Homo sapiens: one gene and its partners. The protein of the gene in region 2 interacts with the protein of the main gene of each other region in a pairwise test. Each region holds a gene or a part of one and is shown on either strand. Other genes may lie near its edges. The genes, in order: PTTG1IP, PTGS1, PTGIS and ARFGAP3.

Region 1 (7,115 bases), on a different chromosome or scaffold from region 2:
AAAGTCCTGGCATGTCCTGTTTTTAGAGAGCGTATAAGGACTGAGCTTTAAAGAAAAGTTTGGGATCCAATTTCTATAATATCCTGCCAGTCCTCCACATCCTTTTGTTTCTTGGTTGTTGGTGGTGGAAAGCTAAAATTCCTTTCAGTCTATCTAGATTAGTAGAAAGTCTTTCTTTAGATATTAAGTGGCCCAAGTACTTTGTTTTTTATAAAATTGAGGTTTTTCTTTAGGAATTTTATGTCCCTTTAGGGCTGTTGTAATGAATGTATCCCATCTTCTATAAAAGCTTTGCTTATCTTCTGAGCAAAGGAGTAAACTGCCCATGTATTGTAATAAAAAATTTTTTTTAAGAACAAGTCAAAAGACTGGGCCCAGTGCCTCGCGCCTGTAATTCCAACACTCTGGGAGGTTGCAGTGGGCGGATCACCTGGGGTTCAGAGTTTGAGACCAGCCTGACCAACATGGAGAAACTCCATCTCTACTAAAAATACGAAATTAGCCAGGCATGGTGGCGCATGCCTGTAATCTCAGCTACTCGGGAGACTGAGGTGGGAGAATTGCTTGAACCCGGGAGGCAGAGGTTGCAGTGAGCCGAGGTAGCGCCATTGCACTCCAGCCTGGACAACAAGAGCGAAACTCCGTCAAAAAAAAAAAAAAAAGAACAAGTCAGTATGTAAGACAACTGTCTTTGCATCAGTTGGACTCTCAGTGTAGCCCTGAGCATGGCTGTCTGTGTGTATTGTCTGCCTTCCCAAGTAAAGGTAAAGAGAAATCAACACTTTCACACACAGAACTACTGAAGGATGTGCTAATAAGTCCACTACACTAAAGGACTTTGATCGGGGTAGCCAAGAGGATTCTTCCAGTATCAGTGGAAGACTCTGACCATATTTGATCAAGTACTGCCTTTAGTAGGTTTTGTAATTCTTCATTATTCAATAATTCAGTGTCTTCTAGGGCAATTAGGGATCGCAATTGGGTTAGATTTTGAAACTTTTTTTATGTCTAGTAACTCAGCTTTCTCATCTAATTCTAAATACGTCTTCCCCCTTTGGGAGAAAGAAACGTGGATATTGTAATTCTAAGAAGTCTCCTTTTATAAGATGGCTGGCAGCTGATAGAACCAGAAGGAAAATGTGAGTCCCTTGTAAAGGACCTAGTTGAAAAGCTATAGGCTGAGATTTACGTGCCGTTACAGGCGTATTAGTGACACCTACCCTTTGAACTTTTTTTTGACTCCAAGGAATGGAACCTTGTAACAAGATGGGATTTATTACAGAAAACACGGCTGCTCTATCAGCAAAAGCTTATGTCAGCAATGGGAACTCGTGTTAACTATTTTAAATAATTTTTATGGCCAGGCGTGGTGGCTCACGCCTGTAATCCCAGCACTTTGGGAGGCTGAGGCAGGTGGATCACAAGGTCAGGAGTTCAAGACCAACCTGGCCAATATGGTGAAACCCCATTTCTACTAAAAATACAAAAATTAGCCGGGCGTGGTGGTGCGTGCCTGTGGTCTCAGCTGCTCGGGAGGCTGAGGCAGAGGAGTCGCTTGAACCTGGGAGGCGGAGGTTGCAGTGAGCCAAGATTGAGCCATTGCACTCCAGCCTGCGCAACAGAGCGAGACTCCGTCTCAAAAAAAAAAAAATTATTTTTCCCAAAGTAGAGGCAGGGTCACACACTCGGGTATTTAAATTCTCTGGGAAAACCAGTGGGGTCCTGGTGAGCATCAGGAAATTCCTTGATTATACTTTTAAGTTCTACCTTTGACCATAACTCATGAACTAGGGCACATAGTTGTCCCCTATGAGAGACACTGGCTGTTTGAGCAATGGCCCCAAAACAGGAGGAGGAGGAGGAAGAAAGGTGGGTCTGGGCGAGGTAATTCAGACAACAAAGGATAAAGAGAAGGAGCTGAGGGAGGAGGGGGAGAAATTTCAGTAGTCTTTTTTAAATTCAGAAATTATTTTAGATAATTTTTGTTTTTCTCTCATAAATACCTTTATTAGAACTTCTTTTGGATGCTTCCAACTACCATAAAAAATAACTCTCCCAAAGATTCCGTTTTATCCTAGAGCCAGCGTTTTCCAATTGAGCAAACAAGTAAATTACCTTGGTGTTCCAATGGTACCCGGCTTTGGTCACTGAAATGTTTTTTCTCAAGTTACGTGAGACCATTTTTCTAAATATAACGAGAGGTGGCACCATAAGCACTGCACAGGAAACCAGCTGGAGTTTCCAAAGATGGGTCCTCCCTGAAGGAGAAAGACTTGTTTTGGATGGACGATTGCCTATGAGTTCTCTTAAGTGACAAAAGACTGTAAGGGAAAATCTGGTTACTCAAGAAGAAAGTTTAGACATGTCAAATTGAACTCAGCTCCAGAGCCTGGCCAGTTTTAAGGATTACAAATTTTGCTTAAGCCACGATTCGCTGCTTCTTTTCAAAGAGAAACTGCTTTCCCCTTCTCCAAATCTGAAGGACAAAAAAGGTTGCAAACTTTAGCAAGACGAACAAAACCTTAACCTCGAAGGATAGTGTTAACCACACACCTGCAAACAGCTGACTCTTTGGAGAAATAACAAACGAAACTCTTGCCTTAAAACCAAGCCTCAACTCCAGCCCTATCAGGTGTGGACCTGGGTAGGCGGAACAGAGTCTGAACCTCAGCCCTGGGAGGCTGCCAGAGACCCCGGCCAGGTTCCCAGGCGGTCCGGTGAACCAAGGCCGCTCCGCGGGTGCCAGCGCTCCGAGTGCCAGAGAAGTGGCTCGGATCACAAGAGGCTGGCTTCGGAGCCATCTGCAGGCGCCCAAATCCCAACCTAAAATCACCACAGGGTCAGAATCTAATGTAAGGGGGGGTTATTCAAAGGCAGTTGGAGGCTGGCCCACCCGGAAACACCGGCTCCAGAGGAATGGAGTCCGCCCTCGGAAGCGGGGAGGGGAAGGGTGCCCTCGGGCAGGCAGAGGCGGAGGCTTTTAGCAGGACCGCGGCGTCCTTCCTACGAGGTGGGCGCAGTCCTCGCGTTTGATGGACGACGGGCAGTGCCTGCTTCAGGGAAGGGTGCGGCAGTCACGGTTTCCCGTCTTCTGGTCTAAGCAGTGCAGAAAACAGGGAAGTTCATCTACAAGGGTCATGAACTAAGAAGGCAGGAGGTTTCTGTCCCCGGCACCGGCGAATCCCGGACCCGAGAAAGGAGCTACGGGCGCACAGAAGCGGGCGGCCCCGGCTCTCGCGGGGCTTAAAGCGCGCAGTGTGTTCGGGTTCACACCTCTAAATGTATTTTTGCCATTTCTTAAGTAGCCTTAAAAATGTCCGTCACTATTTAGTCCTTTTATCAACCGAGGGGCCCGGAAGGCCGCAGCGAGGGCGTCGGCGAGAAGCCATGGAGGAGAAACGGCGCTTCTCTCGGGAGTTTAGGTGGCAGCTTCAGCAGCACACGTTTCAGCCCATTCTGGGGCCGTTTCTAGTGTGGTTAACGTACAAAAATAAACAAATCCCCTAAAAGTCCCACGCGGACATCGGCGGGAGCCCAGGGCCGGACGCCGCGGTGTGGAGCGAGGGCGCCGGCGCGGACTATGAGGGCCCACCGCGCCTCGTCCAGGGCTCACTTAAGAGCAGCGTGAGCAGCGCTTGGGACCGCCGTCCGGGACGCCCGCAGCCCTTTAGGATGGAGGCCACCGTGACCTCCGCCACCGAAGCACCGCGCTCCCCTAGTCCCCTCAGCCGGTCGCCGTTCCCCGCCGCGCAGGCGCAGGAGCCGCGGCGAGCCCCTCGGTCACGCCTCGCCCCTCGGTCACGCCTCGCCCCTCGGTCACGCCTCGCCCCTCGGTCACGCCTCGCCCCTCGGTCACGCCTCGCCCCTCGGTCACGCCTCGCCCATCCGCGCCGCGCAGGCGCACTGAGCCTCAGCCGCTCTCCTCGCTACCAGGCTCCTTTCCTCTATCGCGCAGGCGCACTGAACCTCAGCCGCGCCGGGAGGCGAGCCCGTTGGCGAGGGGCGGGGCAGATGGCGAGGGAGCGGGGCGAGCTGCTTTTTGAGGCTGCGCACTCGCATGGCCCCACCTCGCAGGTCCACTTCCGGCGCCGCGGCTGTTCCGGGCGGAGACCGCTTGTGCTGGAGTCGGAGTTGTAACGCTCCACTGACTGATAGAGCGACCGGCCGACCATGGCGCCCGGAGTGGCCCGCGGGCCGACGCCGTACTGGAGGTTGCGCCTCGGTGGCGCCGCGCTGCTCCTGCTGCTCATCCCGGTGGCCGCCGCGCAGGAGCCTCCCGGAGCTGGTGAGGGCGCCGGGGCGGGCGGGGCCGCGAAGGGGGCGGGGCGGCTGGTGGGTCCAGGTCGGGGTCGGGGTCGGGGTTTCGGCCAGGGCGCTGGGCTCGGCGGGCGGCCTGGGCCCACGGTCGCAGGCAGCGCCCCGACGGAGGCTCCTCGAGGGTCACGCCCGTTTGGCGGCCGCGGGAGCTGCCGTCGCGGCTGGGGCGCGGGCAGGGGAAGAGCCGTCTTTGTCTTTGTCTTTGTTTTGTCCAGTCGCTGCGGCCGCTCCTCGCGCGTGGCCTCGGGTTGGCCCTCGCCCGGCAGGCGGGACGCTTGGCACCTGCGGCCTCCCTTAGCCTCACTGCGACCCCAAACAGCACTCCTCGGGTTCGATCCCGAGCCGGGAAGCCGGCTCACGACGTGTTCGAGGTCGCACAGCTGGTCGGGGGCAGGCCGGGATGGCGGCCGCAGGCCCCTGCAGGGTGATGGGGCCGCGGCCGGTGTGTCTCTACAGCCGCCGGCGTTCACGCCGCCACTCCCTCCCGGCCGCAGTTCCACGCACAGCAGCGAACGCTCGCACTTATGCCTTAGAAAGGAAGGCGTCCCCAAAGCCAGGCTGTAGCATCTGATTTTGAAGCAAGCTGATTGCGGTTCTACGCTGTCCAGACGCGCAGGTGGCATTCTTCATCGTTTATCCCGTCTGCACCAGGCCCTGCGGCCACAGTGGTGACCGACAGCCAGAGCTCCTATCCAAGAGGAGCTGAGTCCCCGGGAGGCTGACCAAGAAAGAAGCAGTGAGGGCGCGGGGGCTGGGGGAGGAAAGTGCATGACAGGAGACTCAGAGTTCCAGAAACCGGCAGTGTTTATAGAGGGTGGCTTCCTGTGGGGCTGGGCCTCCAGGGCCTGGTGGGCTGCGGGAAAATCCAGCAGGTTCTAAGCTGGAGAGTGTCATGGTTGGACCTGTTTCACAATGTCATGCTGGCTTCCGTGTGTGGAGTTTCCAGGTGACCACTAGTGGTGGGGAATAGTGCCACCTTAACTTCAGTTTCCTGACCCTTACAATTAGGGTTGACCTGGGCCCAGCTTGAGGGGCTAATACTTTTCTCAGCTCTTGTTAGCCCAGGCTCTGTCAGTGTCTGTTTAGCATAGTAGAGCACCTTTTCTTTTTGTGACCTTATGGAATGTTTATTCCGATGCAGGATTATTTGTGTTTCTTCTTACCTGCCTCCAAGTGTGCTTAGGGTTTGTGACGTTAGCAATGCAGCTGCCTTGAAGTTTGTTAGTCAAGGAGGCCAGTGGGACTGTACTGGGAACTTTTGGCCCAGATTGAGTTCTAAGCGCAAATGTGCAGTGAATACGTTTCCACAAACAGAATGGGCGTCTGCAGGCAGAGTGTGTGATTCACTGGCAACTGTATCAGTGGCTCGGGGGTGTGTTTGCTTGCATTGTGAAAGCGGGAGTGTCAGGAAAACAACCATGAGGTTTTGTTTGACTGTGATTCCTCCTGCTCTGCACTGCTGAAGGGTGCAGAGATGGGTGTGGACGAGTGGAGTGGACAGTGTGGGAATTAATCCGGAACTGCCATTCGGTGTGTCAGCTGAAAAGCCATTCGGTGTGTCTGCACTTGGAGGCTGCACTTGCTTGCTTCCACTTATGGTAATCACCAAGTCCTGGTGGGTGGACTGTTGTTTCTCTCACTGGGGACCCCTTGGAATAGGAAGAATGGTGCCGTGTCATGTTGGCATTCACTGCCCAGGCGCCTTTGGTGTCTGCGTGCCCCTTGTCCTTGGAGAGAGGGGCTATTTATAGCCTGGAGAACTCCCCTCTTCCCACAGAGTACTTGCTTGGTGTGAGATTTTTACTGCTTGTCATGGTTACAGGAATGTGACCGCAGTACTGATGTTTAAAACGTTTTGTCTCCTTTACAAGGACACTGTGTGAATTTAGAGAATACATTATACCAATCCAAATCCAACACTTTTAAGCATCTTTTTATGTGTTTTGATGGAGGAGAGACATTAAGAACCCATGGTGTATTGAAGATCTTTAGAGCAAGATTCTTGAAGTTAAACCTGGATAGGGCTTTTGGACCCCACTTTATTTGTGTATGGGGTCAGACTCAATCCAAGAGCTTCATCTGGAGGAAAGACGACCCCAAAAAGGAGCTCAGACTGCTGTGTGAGGGCTGGCGCAGTGGTGGCCAGTGCAGGTCCCCGAGGTGGTGGGTCCCACTCAGCTGCTCCTTACAGTGGGGACTCCTGATGTGGAGTTCTGCCCCTGTCACCCTGAGAAACGTGGCTTTCTAACTGTACAGAGTGCTACAGTGTACATAGGGTTCACAGTGTTGATACATACTCCTAGTCTTCAACTCTTTCTTTTGAAATAGTGGAGTTTCCAAGAACATTTTTTTGTCTCCATATCTGCCCTCTTTTCTCACCTGGAATTGACAATGTAGTTGTTCTCCATGCCTCTGTCACAGTGCAGAGTGGGCACCATGCCCGTTTGGCTGCTCGTTCTGCTGATGAGCATGGAGACTGCAGCCTGTGGCCTGCGGTGTGACAGGAGCATGACAAGGAAATACGTACACTTGCTGGTGTGTTCCTTTGTCCTTAGTGTGTTTATTGACTCACCTGAAACTTCAGGAAAGCACTCAAATGGGTCATGGAGGGTTGGTGTATCCTGACAGAAGAAAACGTTATTTGTTGTTGTTGTTTTTTCCTTTAATTTCGGAAACAAATGAGACTGAAAGGTCTTTAAAAATTGATAAATGGAGTCTAAGTTGAAGCCTTGCAGTCATAGGACCCAGAAGTCAGGGCAGTCACATTCAGTGTTAGACTTAAGCAACACAAGGGCAGT
Region 2 (7,936 bases):
ACTGAGCGTGACTAGGGGACAGGCACAGCCAGGGAACACCAAGTCCTCCAGGATGCAGAGGTGTCAGGCTGCAAGATTGCCCAGTGAAGAGGCAGGACCCAAATCCCCTAAAGAGTAATATTTAGAGAGTCTCTGGGGACCTGGCAGCCAGAGAGAAAAAAAAAAAAGGTGGGGAACCCTGACTGGTTTGGCCTGGGCCCCAGTCCCCACACCTAAGCACCACCACACCAGATCCAGACAACTGGGCCCAGCAGCTGGAAGAGCCTGCTGGTGGGGAAGCCCTCTCCCGGCCCACAGACCCAACTGGTGCTGGCGAGAGCAGGTGCAGGCACCCGGGCAGCCTTGGCACAGCTGGCATCTTGCCCCATGTGCCCGGGTCAGCTGGCCTGGGGCTCCTCTGCCTGGCATGCAGCTCTGGTTGCCAGGTCATGCCCTATCCCCATCTAGAAGATGGGCACTGAGTCAAGTCCAGAGACTAGAGGGGAAGTACTTGAGCATTCAGGGCGCCCCCGGCACAGCCTTGCCTCCAGGCTGGCCTCCATCTCCTCACCCACCAGAGAGGCAAAAGCAGCATTCTCTCCCTCCGCCTGCCCTCTTAGGTGAGTGCAGCCCTCATCTCTTCATCTCCTTTGCCTCTAGAGGTAAAAGACAGGCTTTGGCTTCCTGGGGCAGATGCCCAAGTAGCTTGGCCCTCAGTTTACTCGCAGACTTGGAAATATGAGGGCAACCCAGACCTTCTGCCCCTGCACTCCACCAGTCATTCGTTCTTTCCTAGATCCTTGCAGGAGCCTCGGTACCAGTTTTCTGGCCTCCAGTCTCATCCCCACATTACGCATCCAACCTCAGCCTCCTGCTCCACATTACCCTTACGGTGTTTCCTGGTCGAGTCTCTTAGTGTTTCCCCCACCCGCCACCTCCTTCGAGGTCCAGTCCAAAAGTCATCAGATCCAAGAAGCCTCCCTCAATTCTTCGCACTGAGAGGCAGCTGCTCCCTCCCCTGAGCTCCGCACACCCCTGCTCCCTTCCCTGGGCTCCCTATACCCCTGCTTCCTCCCATGAGCTCCGCACAGCCCTGGTCCCCTTGGATGACAGTCTGTTGGCATTTCTGGCTCCACCATCAGCCTGTCAGCTCCTCCCAGCTCCGTGTCTCCAGGCCCCAGCCAAAGACTGGCATAAATAACCCTTGGGGATAAAAAAAAACAATTCCGTGTAAACATTTATTATACAAAAGGAAACAGAAAAGGCAAAAAACAAAATAGCACAGACCATGGCTCATTGTGCATTAGTGAATGGACTAAAAAAGAATACAGACGGGTGGGACCTGTATACCAAGAGTGCCTGGATGAGGCCAGATGGGGCCTCAGAGGAAGTGCTGGGCTGATCCAGGGACTGACAAGATGGGTCAGCGAGGCAACCTGAAGAGCCCCTTCTACTCCCCACCACCAGCTCACTGTGAGGATTCAGACAAGTGGCTTCACTCCCTCTGGGCCTCAGAGTCCCCTTCTGTAGACTGGGTCTAACGCATCTCTCTGGCAGGGCTGTTGAGAGCACCAAAGAGGTGGATGTCCACAACCAACCTTTGTAAACTTTAAAGTGCTGGCCACATGAGTCTTCCTCCTCCTCTTCCCATAAACCAGACTTTTATTCAACGCAATCCCTTTCCTAGAGCACCCTCCGTCCTCTCTTTGGGTCCCCTAAATGCCACCCACCCAAAGCCCGTTTCAGGAAACTTGGTCTGATCCAAAATCCATGTACATATCTTTCCTCTTTCCCCCACGCACCAGATCCTTAGAGCATCACAGCAGAAAGTGCGGACTCCCTCTGCTCCCTCCTGCCCTCTCTGGGCCTCATTTTAGAGATTTTACACAGCTAGGTGGTGGAGGAAACTATATCCAACTGGGACACATGCTCACACACACGCACACACACAAGCAGCGAGCTGGGGGAGGAAGGTTGGCTGAGCGAGGAGCTGAATTCCTTCACCTGGAACCTGGCACATGCATGGGGGAGGGAAGGGCGGAATTTCCCCATCAACCTCCCCCATGAAACCCAGAGTGGCTCCGGGTCCATTGTGGGTAGAAGCAGCTTTCTGTGGAAAGACCTTGCGAAGTGTGTGGACGCAGACAGACCTGAGTTCAGATCCTGGGCCCACCATGTATTTTGTGAGCTTGGGGAATCATGGCACCTACTGAGCCTCGGTTTCCTCATTTGCTCAATGGGGATCTCTTAAACCCCAGATGAAGCATCCCGGCTCCTAAATGTATTTCCATCTCCCATGTTCTCCCGAAGTCTTCACCAGGGGAGACCTTCTCCACTGGCAATGGGAATCAGGATGGGTTCCCAGACGGTTAGAGGCTGGAGAAAGGGAACTCATTTCCCTTGGTGCCTGCGGCTTCCTCCCAAAGAGGCCCCTATAGGAAACAGCGGGGTTGTTGGGTGCAGAGGCTGCTTAGACATCTGGGGCCCAGAACAGGTGAGGGGGATGGATAGGGACTGTCCCTTCTCCCCAAGTTGGCACCAGATCCCAGTCTGCTGTTTCCCCTGAAAGAACTAGATAGCCCATTAGCCAAGGCCACACCGCCGGGGGGGCTTCAGGGAGCCCCCATCCCACCAAAAGACTCAGCCTCAGTCTTTCTCAGCACCGCGAGCAGAAAGGGGAAGCTGGGCCCGCTGGAGGGGAAAGGAGGGGGTTGAAACCAGGCCAGGGGCGCAAGACCGGGGATTCCCTTGGGGAGGGATGGGGCCGCCTACCTGGCGTGGGCGCCCCTGGGTCCGCGAGCAGGACGGGGAGCGGCGGGAGCAGGAGCAGGAACAGCAAGAACCAGAGCAAGAGACTCCCTGCAGAGGAGAGAGATGAGGGGCTGAGCCTGGCATTCAAGGCTCCACCAGGAGGCCAAGAAAATTCCCCACCGGGCACCGGGGTCGCACTCACGGCTCATGGCGCGGCTGCTGGGGTGCGGGACGCAGAGTGCAGGCTCCTGTGCGTGCGCCTCGCACACTGCCCGGAGCTCCAGCCCATCCCCTCCCCACCCTTCCCCCGGCTCCACCCCCGCTCCTCCCTCCAGCTGTCACCTCGGCTGCCCGCTTACTTCCTCTGCCCAGCCCCGGCCAAGGCATTTTATTAATTAGTGTATGCTCGCCGCTAAAGCGGCTTTTCACCCAAGATCCTTGAAGCACTTACGTTTCTGATGCCTGGTGGCACTAGATATAGACAGGAAACTGAGGCTCAGAGACGATGCTCAATGCTGAGGTCACCCAGGGCTTAGGGACAGAACTGGGGATGGAAGCGGCTCGTCTGAACCACATACCCTGCCCCGCAGAGAAGAAAGGGTCTCAGAGTCCCCTTCTGTAAAATGGGTCTAACGCACTCTACAGAAAAGGGTAGAGAAGAAAAGGGGCTAGAAACAGGGCAGTCTGCAGAGAAGAAAGGGGGCTAGAAATGGGGCAGTCCAGCCTGGCCTGCTGATGGTTTCCTAGATGAGAAACTCACTACTCCTCAGACAGATCTAACAGGAAGGACTTACTTCCCCCATGGGCTGGGCTCCGCCCCCTGAAGCCACAGGTCTCTGCCAGAAATGAAAAGACCGGGCTCCAAACTCCAAGAGAGCCTAGTTCAAATCCAGACTCCACAGCTTACTGGCCGTGTCACCTTGGACAAGGTACTTATCTTTTCTAGCCCTCAGTATTCTCATCTATAAAATCGGCTTAATAGCAAAAACCATCCCAGAGGGTGGTTGTAAGATTCAATGAGGGAATGCACACAAATCTCCTGGTGCAGTGTCCAGCATGTAGTAGGTGCTCAGTTATCGGAAGGCATTTTTTCAAAGATCTCTGAACTCAGATTCCAGGGCTGGCCAGGGTCCATGCTGTAGCTAGACTCACATCCACCGCCGAATTTATAGAATCCCAGCATCCAGCTCTCCTTTTCGCCAGCTCAGGAAGCACCTAGAAGGAGGAAGGAATAGGTCCAAGATCACCCAAAGTCCCATGGTGCTGGCACCCACAAGTCATCTCCCTCAGTTTCCCCAGCACACCCAGCCATCCTGTGGGCCCCACAGTGGGGAAAGCCGGCAGGAGAGCTCAGAGGTTCTTGTGCTGGCTCCTGGGCATCACTGGGTGCAGGGTAGAAATTATGCCAGGTGGGAGAGGTGAAACCTGCTGGGAAGCCCCTCCCCCATTCTCACCCAAGCTGTTCCCATGCTCCCCTGGGACAAAAGCCAGCTGCCCTAGGGAGACAGAGCAAGCCAGGGCAGACCTGGAGAAGGAGTGGGGCATTGGAGGGCCCTGGGGCTCTCAGGGTGCCGGGACCGGCTTCAGCCTTCCCTTCCTCCCCAAATCAAGGGCCCCCTAGCATTTACAGGGCAAGGAGATGGGATTATCAGCAAAAGGGATGGGGACAGGGTGGAGGTGTGGGGGTCCAGTTGTCCAAAGAAAGGGGGAGTTTCTGGTGAGAAGAAAGGAGAGACGGGCTTGAATGAGGTTCCATCTTCCACTCCCAGGCCCTCCCTCCCTTTGGGCCCTGAGCCCATCAAGTCACCACACCTGTGCCTCCTGCTGACTTCCAAGCCACCCATCTGCACTCAAAACAAGAAACACTTGTGTGGCCCTGGCACTGATGGGAAGAGCCTTCACCTCAGAATCAGAAGTGAGTTCAAGTCACTTCTTCCATAGCGTGACCTTAAACAAGCCGCTAGGCCTCACTGGGCCTCTGTTTCCCCATTTGAACAACAGAATGAGCAGATCAGATGGTCTCTGAGGACTGGTCCAGTTCCAGCATGGAGCAATTGAGCCCTCACTGCAGCCAGGCTCTGTGACCAGCACCACAGATCTCAACACAGCTGCAATACAGGAGAGGATGGAGTCTGAGAGAGCAGGCAGGGTGCCGAGGCAGCCCTCCAGGGATGAGGCAGGACCAAGAGCATGGAGTGGGGAGAAGGTAGATGAGAGAAATGGTGGCAGAAGTGCCAGGGCTTGGTGACCGATTAGCACTAGAGCTTAGGGGAAGAAAGGTGCTGAGGACACCTAGCCTTCTGGCTCAATGCTGGTGGTAATATCCAGGGAAGGGGAGCTGGCATGGGTAGGTGGAATTTGAATTTGGGCTTCTTGTATTTGATCCACTTCAAGGAATGAGGAGGATCAAACCTTCCCTGCCTTCTCCAGCTTGGCCCATGGGCCAGCACCCCCAACCGCCCCAGCATGCAGCTGGATACACAGGGGAGAGGTCTGGGGTAGCCCTTGCCCCAGCCCTGGGAAAGAGACCACAGCACAGGGCCACCTTTTCCTGCTCCCTACTGCAAAGCTATAGTCTAAATGCCTAGGACTGGTGTCACCATCCTAGTCCTCAAGATTGTGAGCTTCCACTTATAGGGCAAGTCCACCTCCCATGTCCCCTGGTAGGCCTCCTCTAACATGCCTCCTCCTCCCCCTTCTCTCCTCTAGGAAGCCCCTGTGCCTTCCCTGGCCACAGCAGTGCCACTCCTGATCACATTGTCCCTCTGCCCCCAAACATTATGAGGCTATAAGAGTCCTGGTCACTCTTGTAGCCCCAAGGCCAAGCATAGGATCTGGCGGATAAAAGACATCCAGGGAATGTTTGTTGCTTGAACAAAGAAATGAATGAGTATCTAAAAGAGTAGTGAATGCATTAAAAAAACAGACCAGGTCCAGCACCAGCCTCATCGAAGTGACTGCCAACCACCCATCTGCTGTGACGGCCACCAAAAGTATCACTGCCTGCCTCAGTTTCCCTGCCTTCTCCAGCTTGTCCCATGGGCCAGCACCCCCAGCTGTCCCACAGGCCCAGCTTCACCCCAGGCCCTGAGCCCTTCCCAGCTAAGGCAGCAAGGACCTCCTTCCCTATACCCCACTGGTAACAAGGGATAGGATTTCTCTCTGCATAGCCCCCTCCCCATTATCCACACCAATCACGTGCCCTCCTGCTCACCCTAGCTACAGCCTGGATTGTAATGCTCCTGGAGAGGTCTCACTCCTGCTGGGCCCCACCCACTATTTGGAAAACCAGAGCTGACTCTTACCTGAATCACTCATGGACCCAGCCCCACCCGGCCCCACCTGTGTAGGCAGCTTCTCAGTCAGGCAGGAAGGCTCTGGACTCAATCCAATATCTCTTCAAATCCCAGTCCTCCACCCCACCTGACCTCTCAGTGTGACCTTAAGCAGCAAACTGCCCTTTGTGGACCTCAGTTCCCCCACCTGTAAAAACGTGGTTAATAATGCCACTCTTGCAAGAGTTGTTGTGAGGATGAAGTAAGATAGTCCCTGTGAGCATCCCCAGCATTCAGTAGGAGCTCAATGCTAGTTCTTTATTGGCCCTCGCTTCTACTCCCTACCTGAGCAAGAGGGTTGCATGAAAAATTCCCTTCCTCCTCCTCTTTACCTACTCAGAACCAGGCTAGGGTTGACCATTGGAGGTAATAATAATAATGGCTAATATTTCTTGAATATCTACTATGTGCAGGGTAGAATGCTATGTGTTTTAAATGCACTGTTACATGTGATTTTTCTCAACAACCTTATAAAGTCAGTATCATCACTTCCATTTACAGAGAAAGAAAGTGAGGCCCAGTGTTGAAGCAGCTTGTCCAAGATGCACAACCAGTAAGAGTCAGGTTTCAAGGCCCAACCCTTTTGTTCTGGAATACCGGGTACCTGTACCCAAGCCCCAGCATAACCAACGAGTGTTTGAAGTTAAAAGGAAACAGAAAGGCTCGCTAGGGTGGTAGTCGGCTTGTGGAGCGATGTGTGGGATCCAATTTAAGCAACATAGTTCAGCTGAGAAGCTGAGAACTGAGAGTCACAAAATAATGTTTTGGTTTTGGTTTTGGTTATTTTTTGTCAGGGTCTCACTCTGTTGCCCAGGCTGGACTGCAGTGGTGCGAACTTGGCTCACTTCAGCCTTGATCTCCTGGGCTCAGGTGATCCTCCTACCGCAGCCTCCTGAGTAGCTGGAACTACCGGGTGCATATCACTATGCCCAGCTAATTTTGTTTTATTTGTTTTTTTGTAGAGACGGGGGTCTCACTATGTAGCCCAGGCTGGTCTTGAACTCCTGGGCTCAAGTGATCCTCCCACACTGGCCTCCCAAAGTGCTGGGATTACAGGCATGAGCTACCACACCCGGCCTACCAAATGCGTTTACATCCCTTTCTCATGGAAACCCTCACAATTGCTGGAAGAAGAAGGTATCATGATCCCCATTGTGCAAAGAGGAAAATGAGGCTCAAAGATGTCCGTAGATTATGCAGAGAGGAAGAAAAGTGGGAGGAGTTTTAACCACTTCTGGGGCACTTACCATGTGGCAGACATTATGCTAAAGATTTTTGGTGCATCATCCCCTTTATAACTCCTAACAGCCCCATGAGGTAGATGTTCCTCTTGTCTCCATTTTTATAAACAGGAAAATTAACTGACTTGCTATAGCCTATACCACAGGCTATATATGGGTGGTAGAGCTGGGATTTGAGCCATGGCCTGTATGATTTCAACATTTACAAGTGTAACTCCCTATTACGCTCATCGCTGGTTATCTTGGATCTCAAACCCTGAATCCTTAAACAAACACCCAAATCCTGCCAGGAATGGGCCAAGAAGATAAACAAGCAGGAGACTCTAAGTGGAGAGTCCCCAAGTTCATCTGGGGAGTTTCCACTGCAGGTGCCCTGTCCCGCAGACCTCTCCACTAGACAGCCAGCACCATCTGCTTGGCACAGGATGGCTGAGTGGTCACACCATGGCATCCTCCCCAGCCAGCCCCCACCATCAGTGTAATCCGCAGAGCCTCAGACATCAGCTCCTGGGATCAGGGGACTCAGCCACCTGTGACGGACAAACCAGGGGAAAGAGCCATTCTCTGGCTAGGGGACGTTGCTCAGGAAGTTTATGGGGCTGTAAAATACAAGTCCTCTCACCCCACTTC
Region 3 (7,385 bases), on a different chromosome or scaffold from region 2:
CTAATTTTTTTTGTATTTTTTTTTTTTTTAGTAGCGATGAGGTTTCACCGTGTTAGCCAGAATGGTCTCGATCTCCTGACCTCGTGATCCGCCCTCCCGGCCATTGTCCTTCTTTAAGAATTTTTTGCTTGTAGTTGCATTTCTTAGTATCTAAAAGTCACATGGTTCTAAGACTTTTGAGTGTTCAGATTACCAGTATAATGTGTGGGAAGACTGAGAATTCATTCTTCCTGTGAATTAAAAATTCTTGCAAAGCCAGGCGTGGTGGTTCACACCGGTAATTCCAGCACTTTGGGAGGCTGCGGTGGGAGGATCGCTTGAGCTGAGTTTGAGACCATCCTGGACAACATGGCAAGATGCCATCTCTACAAAATTTTTAAAATTAACTGGGCATGGTGGCACACACCTGTAGTCCCACCTACTCAGGAGGCTAAGATGAGAGGATCACCTGAGCCCAGGAGTTCAAGGCTCCAGTAAGCTATAATTGTACACTGCACTCCAGCCTGGGCCACAGTGTGAGATCCTATCACTAAAAGTAAAAGCTAAAAATTCTTACAGCCCAGAGTTTTAATCCAGACAGACCTTGAGCAAGTTGCTTAGCCTTTCTGAGCCTGTTTCCTCCTCTGTAAAATGGAGATAACCAGAGTGTCCCTAGCTGAACTGGAAGGAGAAAGTGAGATTGGGGATCTAAACTGGGGTCCCCAGGGTCCATGCACCTACCCTCAAGCTGCCAGTGACCCTCATTCCCACACTTCTCCCCACTACCCACTGTTGACCCTTCCAAGGTGCCCACAGGTATAAAAATCAAAGGCTCAGCAGGGCGCGGTGACTCACGCCTGTAATCTCAGCACCTTGGGAGGCCGAGGCAGGCAGATCACCTGAGGTCAGGAGTTCGAGACCAGCCTGGCCAACATGGAGAAATCCTGTCTCTACTAAAAATACAAAAATTAGCTGGGCATGGTGGCACATGCCTGTAATCCCAGCTACTGGGGAGGCTGAGGCAGGAGAATCACTTGAACCCAGGAGGCAGAGGTTGCGGTGAGCCGAGATCGTGCCATTGCACTCCAGCCTGGGCAACAAGAGGGAAGATCCATCTCAAACAAACAAACAAACAAAAAAAGAGCCCATAACGTATTCACATGATGGAAGACTCCAGAGAGGATCAAAAGAATGGATTCGATCTCCTTGTAGCAAAAAGATCTGCTTGTAGCAAAAAGAACAGATGTCAAAACTAAAATCTGGAGTGAAAAGAGCAAGCAACATAATGTCTGAAAACATTTCTATACAGTGTATTGAGAAAGCCTGACAGGAAAAATAATTCATTTCTTCCCTGAGACATTTATTCACTGTCTTTTTCTTTTCTTGTTTTAAGGCAAATGATTGACTACACAGTTGTAAATTTCAGCTGAAAAGATGTCTGGAGGTTGAAGAAAAATACAGTGAGCTTATTGTTTGAAAATTCAACTACCATATTGTTTAAAAATCAAAAAGTTCCCAAGGTTTCCGGAATTTTCAGACACGAATGTAAACTAACTCTCTCTTACGTGGCTCTGTATTAGCTACAAGCTCATGTCTATGTATGTAAGAGTAATTTTTATGTAAGAGTAATTTTTAAAACATCTGGGAGACTGAGGAGGTATGAAAACTAAAGGCAATGTGGTAACTTGGGGCCGGATCCTGGAACAAAAGAGGACAGTAATGGGAAACTGGATAAAATCCCGTGAAGTTTGAAGTTTAGTTAAGAGTAACGGACCAGTGTTGGTTTTTAGTGGCGACAAATGTCCCATAACAATGTAAGATGTTAACAATAGGGAAAACGGGGTGAGAGAAATACAGGAACTTTTTGTACTATCTTTGCAACTTTCTGTAAATCCCAAACTAGTCTCAAATAAAAAGTATATTTTTTTAAATATGGAAGGTTCTACCCAGACTCAGCAACAGGAGAGGCCCAGAGAGGGAGAGAGGACTAGACTTCAGGGGCTGGGGGAGGGTTAAGGGGCTTCGGTCTTACCTATAACAGGATAAATATTTGTGTTAAGTCGAATGTATTCAGCTATTCCTTATGCAATTCAAGTTAACTTAAAAAATATTTTATGAAAAGGAGAGCTACAGCTATCTCCTTGATTTGAGGCTGTCTTTACTTTTTCTCCTAAATCACAGATGCTCAATGGAGCTGGAAAACCTTTGGGACCAGGAGGCTGTGACATCTGACCCTGGCTCCGTTCTGTCCAGGCTGTGGGACCTCAGGGGAAGGTAGAGACTTCATAGGCCTCAGTTTCTCCCTGGCAAATGAAATTACTAAGCCCACCGACCCCCGTCTTCCAGACGGGGAATCCCGGGGTGGGTGGTTCCAGGGCATGATCAAGACATCCCCCAGGGGCTCTACACTCCGCTGGCTCAACACTCCCATCTGTGTAATGGGTTGAGGAGCGAGGCTATCCCTATAGGACTGCCGAAAGCAAGGCAGGGTTTGACAGCGCGTAGGTGGGTGCCAGGTGCAGGCAGAGGCTGGAGAGTGGAGAGCGCTTCTTCCACCCGGGCCACGCAGAGGCTGTCCCCGCACGGCTCCCCACCCACAAACCCTCGGTCCTCACCTGAAACCCCCTCCTAGGTCCCTGCCGTCGCGCTAAGGGCCAGACTCGGACTTGTCGCGGTGGGCGATTCGCCCCGGGGGACCTACCGGACCCCGCACCTTCCCACCTTGCACCTTCTTGGCAGGGGGAGCACGGCCTGGCCCCCTCACCCACGTGCGGGGCCCCGGGACTCCCACCTCCGAGGGTCTCGCCTTGCCCGGGATACTGGAGCGGGACTCGGGCCGGGCCGGCCGCGGGCTCCGAGACCCTTGGGCTGCAGCCCGGGCGGGAGCCGCCCCCTTTGTCTGGCGGGGCCGAGCGGAGCAGGACACTCACCGCGTGCGGCGGCGGCTCAGTAGCAGCAGCAGCAACAGTGCGGCCAGGAGGCCGAGGAGCGCGGCCCAAGCCATCGCGGGGCTGGCGGGGCTGGCGGGGCTGGCGGGGCTGGCGGCCTGGCCCACTCCCAGGTAAAGTTCCCCGCCCCCACCCGGCGCGCCCCTCCCACTCCGCCCACCCCAGCCCGCTTTGGGGCGGGGTGGGGGGGGTGGGGGATGGGGCCCTCCGAGGTCCGCAGGGGTCGGACCGGGGCGCTCTGTTAGAAACCCTGCTCCCCCCAGCTCAGGCCTGATGGAAAATGTGGGAGGGAGGGGAGGGGAGAAGGAGGGGGAGGGGGAGGGGGCGGAAGGGATGTGGTGGGCTGGGGAGTGATCAAGGGGAAAGGAGATAGATGGGGGACTGAGGGGGATGTGGTGGACTGGGGGGTGATGGAAGGGAGGGGAGAGGGAGAGGATTTACAGGAAGGAAGAGATTATATGCGGGGAGGGAAGAGGGATGGGGAAGATGGGAGAGGACTTTTGGGGAAGGGAAGAGGAGGGAATGTGGGAAGACGGCGGGACGATGGGGAAACAGCCAAGGAGGTATGGGGAGGAGGGGGCACAGTGGGAGGAGAAAATGTGGTGGGAGGGGACGAACATGGAGGAGGAGTGTAAGGGGGTCAGGAGGAGCTTTCCCACCACATTCCACATTCCACCTAGACAGAGGAAACCCCCCAAGGCTCCTCCTCACCCCATCCCCCACCCCAGGCGTGCTGGGGACCTGGAGTTTTCCATTCTGTGGTCTGGGCTGGGAGGGCTGGTCTGGATTATATCGCACCCTATAGTATCTTCAGTAACTACTGGGCAGGGGGTACAAGGGTGTCTCAGGGAGTCCCCTCATCCTCACCTGCTTTGGGGACAGATAGTGCCCGTGAAGTATGCACCCTCTACCTGGTGCACGTTAGGGCCTCCGGATGTGGTGGCCATTGTCATCGCTACCTGGTGCTTGGGGTGCCAGCCCCCTGTGCCCGCGGCTCTGCAATGTACCACCCCAGGGTGCTGATGAGAACTGGGGGTCAATCCAGCCTCACTCCACGCCCCTGCCCCCACCATCCCCATTCCCACCCTGGGAAGCGTTGGGCAGGTAGCTCAACCTCTCTGAGCTCACCTCATTATCTGGAAACAGGGAGGGCAGAGTTGTGCTTACCTCTGGGGCTGTTGTGAGGAAGTGATGAGAGCTTGACACTAAAAGGAATCACAAACTGTTGAGTGCTTGGCACACTAAGTTTTATGAAACCATGGGCTGAACCTGGAGGTAAGACCCAGGAGGTCTTGTTCTAGTCCTGTATCCACCCATTCAGTGCCGGGTGAGCTTAGGCACGTTTCATTCCATAGTCCCAGCAGAGCTCTGGAGAAGCTGTTGCTCCTCCTGGTCTCCTGGCTTCCATCCTTATCAGCCAGGGTCCTGACAAGGCCCTTCGAGAACCAGCATGATCCGCCCCTTCTCACCTTTACCTGCCTGACCCTATGCCCCCGACTCTCTCCCTCACCCACTCTGCTCCAGCCACACTGATCTCCCCATCTTTCCCTAGAGGTCCCACTGCAGGGCCTTTGCACGTGCTGTTCCCTCTGTTCGGAGCATTCTTCGCACAGCCTGCTCTTTCCACCACCTCCCCGGTGCCTCTATCTCTGCTCAGCTGTCACTGCAGAGAAGCTGTCTTTGGCCACCTGGTCTAAAACAGTCATCTCCTCTTACTGATTTTTGTTTCTTTGTTTTTTTGATAGTTTTTTTTTCTGGCAGTACTTCACATGTCCTGCTATCATACTCAAGATTCATTCATTTGCCTGCTTAATGTTGGCTGTCGAGGCAGCTGGATGACCCCCTTGTGGCCTCAGCAGATTCAGAACAGCAGGAGGCAAAAGGAGTTTTCTGATCCTCTTGTTTATTTTTCCAGCTTATCTGCCAGAGAAGCCAACAATCCCAAGAAGGCCATAGAACGGGTCCAGAGGATTTTCTCCAAATTTGGGGAGCTCCAAAGGGCTGTCTGCTAGCAGTGGGGTTCACAGCTGGGCTTGGCCGATCCTCAGCTTTGTGACCCCAAGCAGACTGCTCCACCTCCCTAAGCTGAGGTTCCTCATTGACAGAATGGGGAAAAGAGAACCTCATGGAGTTGAGGTCAGGAACAAACGACCTGGTCCATGGGGCACACCTATGTGAGTGCCTGTCACACCATGAGCATCAGGGAAAGTTAACCGCAATTAGCGCTTATACCAGTTCCGCTCCTCTCCATTATCTGTGATCAGGCTTGGTCTCAATTTTCCCATCTGAAAAATGGGAAGAACAGTTCCTTCCTCATGGGGCTGCTTTGAGAACTGAATTAAATGAAAAGAGAATGAAATCACCCAGCACAGGGTCTGGTATACAATAGGTACTCAATAAATATTAGTTCTTCTACTCCCCACCCCTGGCTTCAGTGCAGACCAATATCACCTCAATACAAATATCTCTTCCAGATACTCTCTTCCCTTCTCGACCCATAGACAAAATCCTCCCAGGGAAGGAGAGGCAGCTGCTCACACACCAAAGGGAGATGAATGTGAGCCTCTGGTTCTTCCTGGATTTGTTCAGGAGTCGGCATATGTTTAGGAAGGTGGCCAGGCCCCCTTCCCAGAGAATGACCCACCATGGGTCTGAGCTGGTCCAGGAAATCCACCTTTGCTAGTGATTTGTCCTGAGGTGGGCACCTTCCAGATATCTGTTGCGGGCTTCTAGAAAAATGTGTTTCCTTCCTATTTGCCTTCTCTTCTGCTTTGGGGGCAATCGTGTGGGAATGTGATTAGTGGGGGAGCTGAGGGGGGCTGTAGTGTTATGAGGGAAGGCCAAGAAAACTGCAGAGCCCCAAACCAGAGCTGCGGAATCACCATCCCTGGAACCACCTGCCTATAGATTTCTCATTTAATGAGCTAACCACACGTCTGTGCTAGGACACCATGAGTCAGATTTTTCTAATACTTGCAGCCAAAGACATTCCCAACTGAGACGCCTTCTAGATATGGCTGAAGGGAGGACCAAATGAGGCAATGATGCATCCGGAGCACCTCTGCAGGACTGGCCCATGCGAGAATTCAAAAGTGTTGCTTTGTTTTATTATTTTTACTTTGCTTACTGTGTAAGCTTTCTATGTTTATCAGGCTGACAGGACATCCAACCCTCTGGCTATGGCATCTTGGAGGAACAGGCAGGCCTTGAAAATAGCAGAAATTCCGAATTCCCCTGCCCCGGGAGGACTCAAAGGACCCTGCTGAGGACAGAGCTGATATGGCCTCAGAATAAAGATGAGGGAAGACCATCCCAAGGAAGACCCCTCTAGCCCATGGCAAAAGGGCTGGAATACGCAAGGATTTGAAAAGCAAGTTTTGCTTTCCATATAAACCTAAGCAAGTCGCTTAATCTGTGAGCCTCAACTACTTTACTTGTGCAATGGGCATGTTGCTGGTAGTGGTGATAGCAGGGAGCCACCGAGAGAGCTTCCAAGTGTGCCATCTAAGCCCTCCTCTGGGGAAGGGAAGCTCCTCTGGGGAAGGGAAACTGGACCCCCGGGAAAATTTATTCTCCCAGGGACGAACATCCAGACATTTCCCTGTAGGAGCCTCAGTGTGTTCAGATGTTCACTGTCCAGTAGAAACAAGACATCTAGGCAACTCTCCCATCTCACCAAGCCTCTGCTCTCTTCTGTGGCCACTGTGGGGTTGTGAGAGTAATGTCAAGACCCAACCCAATTAGAACACAGGGAATTTTGCCTGGGAAAGGGAGCCCTTCTACCCTACACCCCTGCTTTCTCTCTTCCAAGGATCAGGTCTGATTCATGTCTGCATCCTAAAGGCTACAAATAAACTGTGTCCGGAAAGGAAAATATTATGTGTATTGCCTTCTTCAAGGCTAAAAACCAGTCTCAACAGAGAGGGGCAGTTTTAAATATTTTTTTGTAACAATAGTTCTAACTTTAGTTAGTAACTGAAGCCATCTGAAACACTTTTTCATAATAATTTATTTATTCCCCACAAAGAACCTATAAAATGGGTAGTAAAATTATTCCGAATTCACAGATGGTGAAATCAAGGTCCAGAAAGAGTCACTTCACCCAAGGTCACGTAGTACTTCCTTTGATAAGCTAGAGCATGGGAATTTGATGGCTTCTTAGGACAAGCTAACTTACTCCCTGGTGCTGCAAACACACCCTGGGCCTTCCCACCTCCACACCTTTGCTCATGCTGTTTACCTGCCTGGAAGCCCTCTCTTTCTCTACCTTTTGATTTTTCCAAATCGGTTAGGAGCAGGTTCTCCAGGAGAGCCAAGATGAGATGAGATATACTAAAGGCTTATTGAGGGAGTGCCAGGGAGTAAAATGAAGAGGGAGCCAGAGAGGGCTGGGAGAAAGGGACAGAAAGGAGGACAAATGGAAGGAAGGGACAGAGGAAAGAAGGGACCGTGGGCTGC
Region 4 (7,020 bases), on a different chromosome or scaffold from region 2:
ATCCTCCCACTTCAGCCTCCTGAGTAACTAGGACTAGAGTTATACATCATCACACCACAACATTTTTTATTTTTTGTAGAGGCTGAGTTCACTTGAGCCCAGTGAGCTATGATGGCACTCCTGCAGCCAAGGTGACAGGCGACAAGGCAAGACACTGTCTCAAAAAAAGAAAAGAAAAAAGGGAAAAAAACACCCATGTAACAATGTAATCAATCTCACCCCAATGAGAGAAGATTCACTTACCGAATAAAACTCAAGTGAACACCAAGTGACCGGTGGGACCCTGAGCAATCAATGCAAAGGAACACTCCATAGGTTATGCTTGCCCAGCTGGGATTTTTGGCACCACAATCAAAACACACCTGAAAAAAAATGTTAAATTCAGTTACTAATTTATGTTAGCCAAATAAATTATCCTGTAAGATACAGTAAATGACTTAGCTTGAAAACTGTTTAACCTTTACAATGTAAACTTTGGGATTGTATTATTAGAAAATATCTCACCTAGGTTTTTTTAAAAGCCTCAAATTTCATGCTCTTTTATTATTATATATAATTATATTAATTATAAATTAGTATAGTTAATTACTATATTATGTATTTTTTTATTCTGAGACAGAGTTTCGCTCTGTCACCCAGGCTGGAGTGCAATGGTGCAATCTCGGCTCACTGTAACCTCTGCTTTCCAGGTTCCATTGATTCTCCTGCCTCAGCCTCCGGAGTAGCTGGGACTACAGGCTCACACCACTATACCCAACTAATTTAGTACTTTTAGTAGAGATGGGGTTTTACCATGTTGGACAGGCTGGTCTCGAATTCCTGACCTCAGGTGATCTGGCAGCCTCGGCCTCCCATAGTGTTGGGATTACAGGCACGAGCCACTGTGCCCAGTTTACTACATGATTTATACAGTATATTACAGATTATGTTATATATATATTTATCTATTTATTTTTGAGACGGAGTCTCGCTCTGTCGCCCAGGCTGGAGTGCAGCGGCACGATTTCGTCTCACTGCAAGCTCCGCCTCCCAGGTTCATGCCATTCTCCTGCCTCAGCCTCCTGAGTAGCTGGGACTACAGGCGCCCGCCACCGCACCCGGCTAATTTTTTGTATATTTAGTAGAGATGGGGTTTCACCGTGTTAGCCAGGATAGTCTCGATCTCCTGACCTCGTGATCCACCCGCCTTGGACTCCCAAAGTGCTGGGATTACAGGCGTGAGCCACCGCGCCCGGGCTATCATGTATATATTTTAACAATGCACACTATACATAGTGAAGAGAATTTAGGTTTGTGTACCATCTCAAACATGCCTTATCCTTGAAGCATCAGCAGGGATCCTACCAGTCATGTAAAGGAATGCTAGTGAGGGAAGCAGCCCTGCCTAGAAACACTCCAGCCCTACCATCCTTCCTGGCAGTGGCTATACCAGATGGCAGGCTGTTGAGCATATTGCTTCTCTCCCCAGCCAGAGGAAGAGGTTGTGGCAGCCAGACTCCAAGATGGCCCCAGTGAAACCCACCTCCTGGTATTTGCATCCCGTGTAATCTCCACCACCCTCACTTTACCAAGGTGATCTGTGTGTCTATGTGTATATGGCAGAAATGACCATGTCATTTTTGAGATTGGGTTACAAATGACACTATGGCCTTTTCCTGTCTCCCCCACTCTCTTTTTCTCTCTCCCCCTCTCTCCCTCCCCACCTTGGATCACTAGCTCTAGGGGAAGCCAGGTGCCATGTCTTGAGGACACTCAGGTTGCCCTGTGGAGAGGGTGAAGTGCTGAGGAGTTGAGGCCCCCAGTCCAACTGCCAGCGAGGAGAGGAGGCCTGCCAACCACCATGTGAGTAAGCTCCCAGATGACCTCAGCCCTGGGCCAACAGCTTGACTGCAGCCTCATGAAAGACCCTGGGTCAGAAGCAGCCAGCTAAGTCACCCCCAAATTCCTGACCCTCAGAACTATCTGTTGTTTTATGATGCCAAGTTGGGGGTGATCTGATACACAGCAATAGATGACTAATACAGAGAGATATTCCTTTATGAAATGCTGTGCCCTTCTCTACCTCCACTGCCTCACTCTGTCCAGGTCACTTTGATAACTCTTAGATGCAGGTTCATAACCGAGGACTACGTTCCCTGCCCACTGAGGGCACTGAGAGCTCTTACAGGGGTAGAATCTTTCCCTTTTGCTAATCTTTATGGCTTTTTTTCTTTTTTTTTTAAGGAGACAAGGTCTGGCTCTCACCTAGGCTGGAGTGCAGTGGCACGGTCCTAGCTCGCTGCTTTATGGCTTTTTTTTTTTTTTTTTTAAAGAGACAAGGTCTGGCTCTGTCACCTAGGTTGGAGTGCAGTGGCACGGTCCTAGCTCACTGCAGTCTCGAACTCTTGAGCTCGAGCCATCCACCCCCCTCAGCCTCCTAAGCAGTTAGGACAAGTGTATGCCACCGTGCCCAGATTTTTTTTTTTCTTTTGTAGAGATGGGGGTCTTGCTATGTTGCCTAAGCTGGTCTTGAACGCCTGGGCTCAAGCAATTTGGGCCCTCTCGGCCTCCCAAAATGCTAGGATTACAGGTGTGAGCCACCACGTCCGGCTCCTGTCACCTTACTTTCCTGTCCACTAGCACAGAACCTGCACATGGTAAACGCACAATAAGTGTTTGCTGAATAGTTGTGTACTTTTAAATCTCACACACAGCCTGAAAAATAGGCTTACCCATGGTAAGCATTCAGTAAATATTTGTTACTCAAAAGAATAACTTTAAAAACGTATTGCCAGCTCAAAAATTACTAGCCCCTTCAACACTGACACTGAAGCCCAACAGGAGCATAAAAGTACTTTAAAATACACAGTGCTAACTAGCAGAGTCACGCGTCGGAAGTGTGCTGGGCCCATAAAATACACAGTGCTTGTTGTGGAAAGTAGTATTTATAACTCATTAAACTCCGAATAGGGAAAAAATTCCTCTAATAGAGGTGTTTTTAATCTTTTTGCAGGAAAAAAAAATACATATTAGATATATAGGCTGGGTGCAGTGGCTCACACCTGTAATCCTAGCACTTTGGGAGGCCAAGGCAGGTAGATCGCTTGAGCTCAAGAGTTTGAGACCAGCCTGGGCAACATGGCGAAACCCTATCTCTACCAAAAAATTAAAAAAATTAGCCGGCGTGGTGGAACGTGCCTGTAGTCTCAGCTACTCAGGAGTTTGAGGTGAGAGGATCGCTTGAGCCTGGGAGGCGGAGGATGCAATGAGCGGAGACCACTCCACTGCACTCCAGCCTCAGCAACAGTGAGACCCTGCTATCAAAAAAAAAAAAAAAAAAAAAAAAAAGATATACTTTATAGGCAGAATCACTTATGTGAAGGTTGTCCAACCTATCATTATCAAGCAAGATCTGGCTTCTGGTCTTTTCAGGGCAATACAAGGGCAATACAAGAGAGGAAACACGAGTGGGTTTTCTAAAGCCCCTCACCACAATATGCTCACACTGATCGCACACTGAATAATCGGGGTGGAGTGACAACTGACACAAAAAGAGGCCAGGAGATTTACTTTGGTGTTTACTGATCACCTGCTGTATGTCAGACATGTGACAGGTGATGAGGTATGAAAAAGTAGCAGCACAAACACTAGCTGAACGCTTATTGGTGCTAGTCTTTAAAGAGCTCACTGAGAAGTGGGGAAGACAGACGCGCAAATTCAAACGCCCTGTGGTGATGGCCATTAGGAGAACCCTCTTCTGTGGGGCATCAAACAAAACGACAGACTCTGCCAAAAGGTGCTGTTCTTCCCCGTCAGGCTGTGTGTAATTTCTCACCTAGTTACTCAACTACCAGTTGCTGTGCACTTACCATCAAGTGTACCTGGCACATACCAAGTGGACATACCAGCGTGGTTCAGGAAGTCTGCCCACATGGAGCCCACAGTCTAGCAGTCCAGTGGGCAAGACAATTAGTTACAAGATTGTTTCCTAGTAAGCAAGGACAGGATGCAAAGGGTTTTTGGTAGAGGTGATGGCAGAGATTTTGGGTACACAGCCCAGAGCAGGCCAAGTTTGAGAATCACTTCTGAGGTGGTCACCAGACTGGCTACAAGAAGAGAGCAGTGAGGTTCCTAATGAGGCAGGCAGCTTTGGCATCCTCCGGACCCATCACCTAAGCTAAGGGATTGCTAAAATGTAGCCCCATGAGGGGGGGGCCATGTCTACCTTATTCACCTGAGCTTGGCACCATGCCTGGCACAACACAGGTGCTCACTAAATGCGAATGCACATGGTGGAGCAGTTTATAGGGGTAGAGGAGCTAACAAGTGGAGACTGGGACGTGTGGAGGTCAGAAGTGGTGAGAAATACAGGTCTGGCTCCCATAAATGCTGCCTTGATCCTCCTGCTATACCAGGAGGCTATGCTTTGGAAGCAGGGACTGCGCTTTGATTTGATATGCAATCCCAAACCAAAGTCAAGATGTGGCTTTTAAAGCAGAACATCAGTTCTTATGGTGATGAGCAAGAAATAGCTTTTGACTGACAATTTGTTTTGTTTAATGATGAGAATAATTAGTATACAAATAATAATAACAGCTAATATTGAGTGTTTAATTCAGGCACTATTGTTGGCACTTTAGCCAATTTCATCTTCCTAACAACGCTTTCATTAGTAGGGTACTAGTAGAAGGTACTATGATCATCCCCATCAGGGCCAGCTTCCTGGGCATGTGTGTGATCTATGCAGTCGCAGAGGGCCCCACACTTAGAATAAAAGAGTGTGTGATTGGCTTAATGCTCTGCTGTCTCATCTTGAAATTCTTTTTTTTTTTTTTTGAGATAGGGTCTCATGCTGGAGTATATGATATGATCTCGACTCACTTCAACCTCTGCCTCCCGAGCTCAAGCAATCCTCCCACCTCAGCCTCCCGAGCAGCTGGGACCACAGGCATGAGCCACCATGCATGGCTAATTTTAATTTTTTTTTTTGGTAGAGATGAGGTTTCACCATGTTGCCCAGGCTGGTGTCAAACTCCTGAGCTCAAGCTATTCATCTGCCTCGGCCTCCCAAAGTGCTGGGATTACAGGCGCCACCGCGCCTAGCCTCATCTTGAAATTCTTTTTTTTTGAGATAGGGTCTCGCTCTGTCGCCCACTCTTGAGTGCAATGGCGTGATCTTGGTTCACTGCAACCTCCGCCTCCTGGGTTCAAGCAACTCTCCTGTCTCAGCCTCCCGAGTAGTTGGGATTACAGGCACATGGCACCACGCCTGGCTAATTTTTTGTATTTTTAGTAGAGATGGGGTTTCACCATGTTGCCCAGGCTGGTCTCGAACTCCTGAGCTCAGATGATCCACCCACCTTGGCCTCCCAAAGTGCTAGGATTACAGGTGTGAGCCACTGTGTCTGGCCGAAATTCTTAATACTGTTCAAACAAGGGCCCTGCATTTTCATTTTGTACATTTCACAAATTATGTAGCTAGTCTTGATCTCCATTTTATTTATTTAATTTTATTTTATTTGTGTGTGCGTGTGAGATGGAGTCGCTCTCTGTTGCCCAGGCTGGAGTGCAGTGGCGTGACCTTGGTTCACTGCAACCTCTGCTTCCTGGATTCAAGCGATTCTCCTGCCTCAGCCTCCCGAACAGCTGAGATTACAGGCACTCGCCATCATGCCCAGCTAATTTTTGTATTTTTGTAGAGACGGGGCTTCATCATGTTGGCCAGGCTGGTCTTGAACTCCTGACCTCAGGTGATCCACCCGCCTCAGCCTCCCAAGGTACTGGGGTTACAGGCGTGAGCCACCGCGCCCGGCCTATTTATTTGTTTTTTAAATCAATGAATGTTTTCTTAATTCTGATTCCTTTTATCATGTGCTTTCTTAAACAAAGAACTTTCACATAAATTATCTTATAATAAGAGTTTCTTTCTGATTCAGTTTAAAAATGACAATAGCATTCGTTGTGCCCAAGTTAGAATTATACCAAAATTACCATATGCCAGCACATACAATCATTCCACTGGTGGCTGGAAAATTAGCTTACGGGAGTGTCTGTCACTCAGATGGGCCATCACCCCTGGTGGGCACATGGTGGAGATAAGGGAAGGCCAGACTAGAAGAAAGCTGGGTCTTTTGGATCGTTTCTACTCCTTTTTCACTTCTTCACCATTCTCCCCACTGAGCTTGAACAAGGGAATCTGCTGGCCATCCTTGGGCTCTAGGAAGACCTCATCAAGGTGCCACCTCTGAAAGGGGCACTTCTGGATGAGCTGACATGGAGATGGCCCTCTGACTTGGATCCAGAGCTAGGAATCTTCAACTTGGCATCAGCAATGTCCACAAAGTTGTGCTTGGTGAGTTTGAGACAGTGAATGTTGAGAAGAGGGCCCAGAGCTCCCTGTGCCTTGGGATGGCTATGCACCTGCTCCAATGCCAACTGGTAATACAAAGCCCTGGAAAAAGTCTTTTGTATGCGGTAATACACAAGGGCCAAGCCCCCAGTACCGAACACATTGCCGAAAAGGACCATTTTTTCCTTGAGGCACTGGCATCCTGCTGCCTGGATACTTTTGCCACCTCACAGCACAACTCTCTTGAAAATCATCAAAGGCAAGTTGTTCTGTAAGCGACAGAAGCACCATGCTGCAGAGAGCATGAGGAGCCCTTCCGGGCGTGGGATGGTGGCGGTAAATCTTGATCTCCATTTTAAAGAAAACTAAGGAATTACTGAATTAAGTATGACAGATAAGAAGTGGCCACTGCTTAGTAATTCCTTAGTGGAAATGCCCACAATGGGGACTGGATCCCATGCAGTCTGTTCCCAGAGCCACTCTTCCCGCTCCACCACACTGTGCTTCAGAGCAGAAAACATACCACCTGCCGTCCTGCATCTGCCCTTCATCTGTCCACTAGACTATAAGTTCCCTGAGGACAGGAACATACCATCAGTGTACATACCTTTCATGCTCTACACAGTGCCCAGCATAGCATAGGTGCTTAATGAATACTTGTTGAATGAATAACCCAATCTATATAAAAGTAA

What was found.
Region 1: the proteins of PTGS1 (region 2) and PTTG1IP interact in binary tests that used the Homo sapiens proteins (3 or more experiments, as listed by UniProt).
Region 3: the proteins of PTGS1 (region 2) and PTGIS come close enough for resonance energy transfer, tested with the Homo sapiens proteins (one study listed by BioGRID).
Region 4: the proteins of PTGS1 (region 2) and ARFGAP3 interact in binary tests that used the Homo sapiens proteins (3 or more experiments, as listed by UniProt).

The regions. Positions count from the first base shown.
Region 1 is NC_000021.9:44,870,672-44,877,786, reverse strand, and holds the start of PTTG1IP (pituitary tumor-transforming gene 1 protein-interacting protein isoform 1 precursor), read left to right. Parts: upstream 1-4,096; 5' UTR 4,097-4,170; coding exon 4,171-4,285; intron 4,286-7,115. UniProt on the Homo sapiens protein: May facilitate PTTG1 nuclear translocation.
Region 2 is NC_000009.12:122,366,088-122,374,023, reverse strand, and holds the start of PTGS1 (prostaglandin G/H synthase 1 isoform 1 precursor), read right to left. Parts: upstream 3,001-7,936; 5' UTR 2,940-3,000; coding exon 2,933-2,939; intron 2,839-2,932; coding exon 2,752-2,838; intron 2,412-2,751; exon of another isoform or gene 2,209-2,411; coding exon of another isoform or gene 2,190-2,208; intron 1-2,189. UniProt on the Homo sapiens protein: Dual cyclooxygenase and peroxidase that plays an important role in the biosynthesis pathway of prostanoids, a class of C20 oxylipins mainly derived from arachidonate ((5Z,8Z,11Z,14Z)-eicosatetraenoate, AA, C20:4(n-6)), with a particular role in the inflammatory response.
Region 3 is NC_000020.11:49,565,134-49,572,518, forward strand, and holds the start of PTGIS (prostacyclin synthase), read right to left. Parts: upstream 3,005-7,385; 5' UTR 2,984-3,004; coding exon 2,910-2,983; intron 1-2,909. UniProt on the Homo sapiens protein: Catalyzes the biosynthesis and metabolism of eicosanoids. Catalyzes the isomerization of prostaglandin H2 to prostacyclin (= prostaglandin I2), a potent mediator of vasodilation and inhibitor of platelet aggregation.
Region 4 is NC_000022.11:42,847,271-42,854,290, forward strand, and holds part of ARFGAP3 (ADP-ribosylation factor GTPase-activating protein 3), read right to left. Parts: intron 363-7,020; coding exon 244-362; intron 1-243.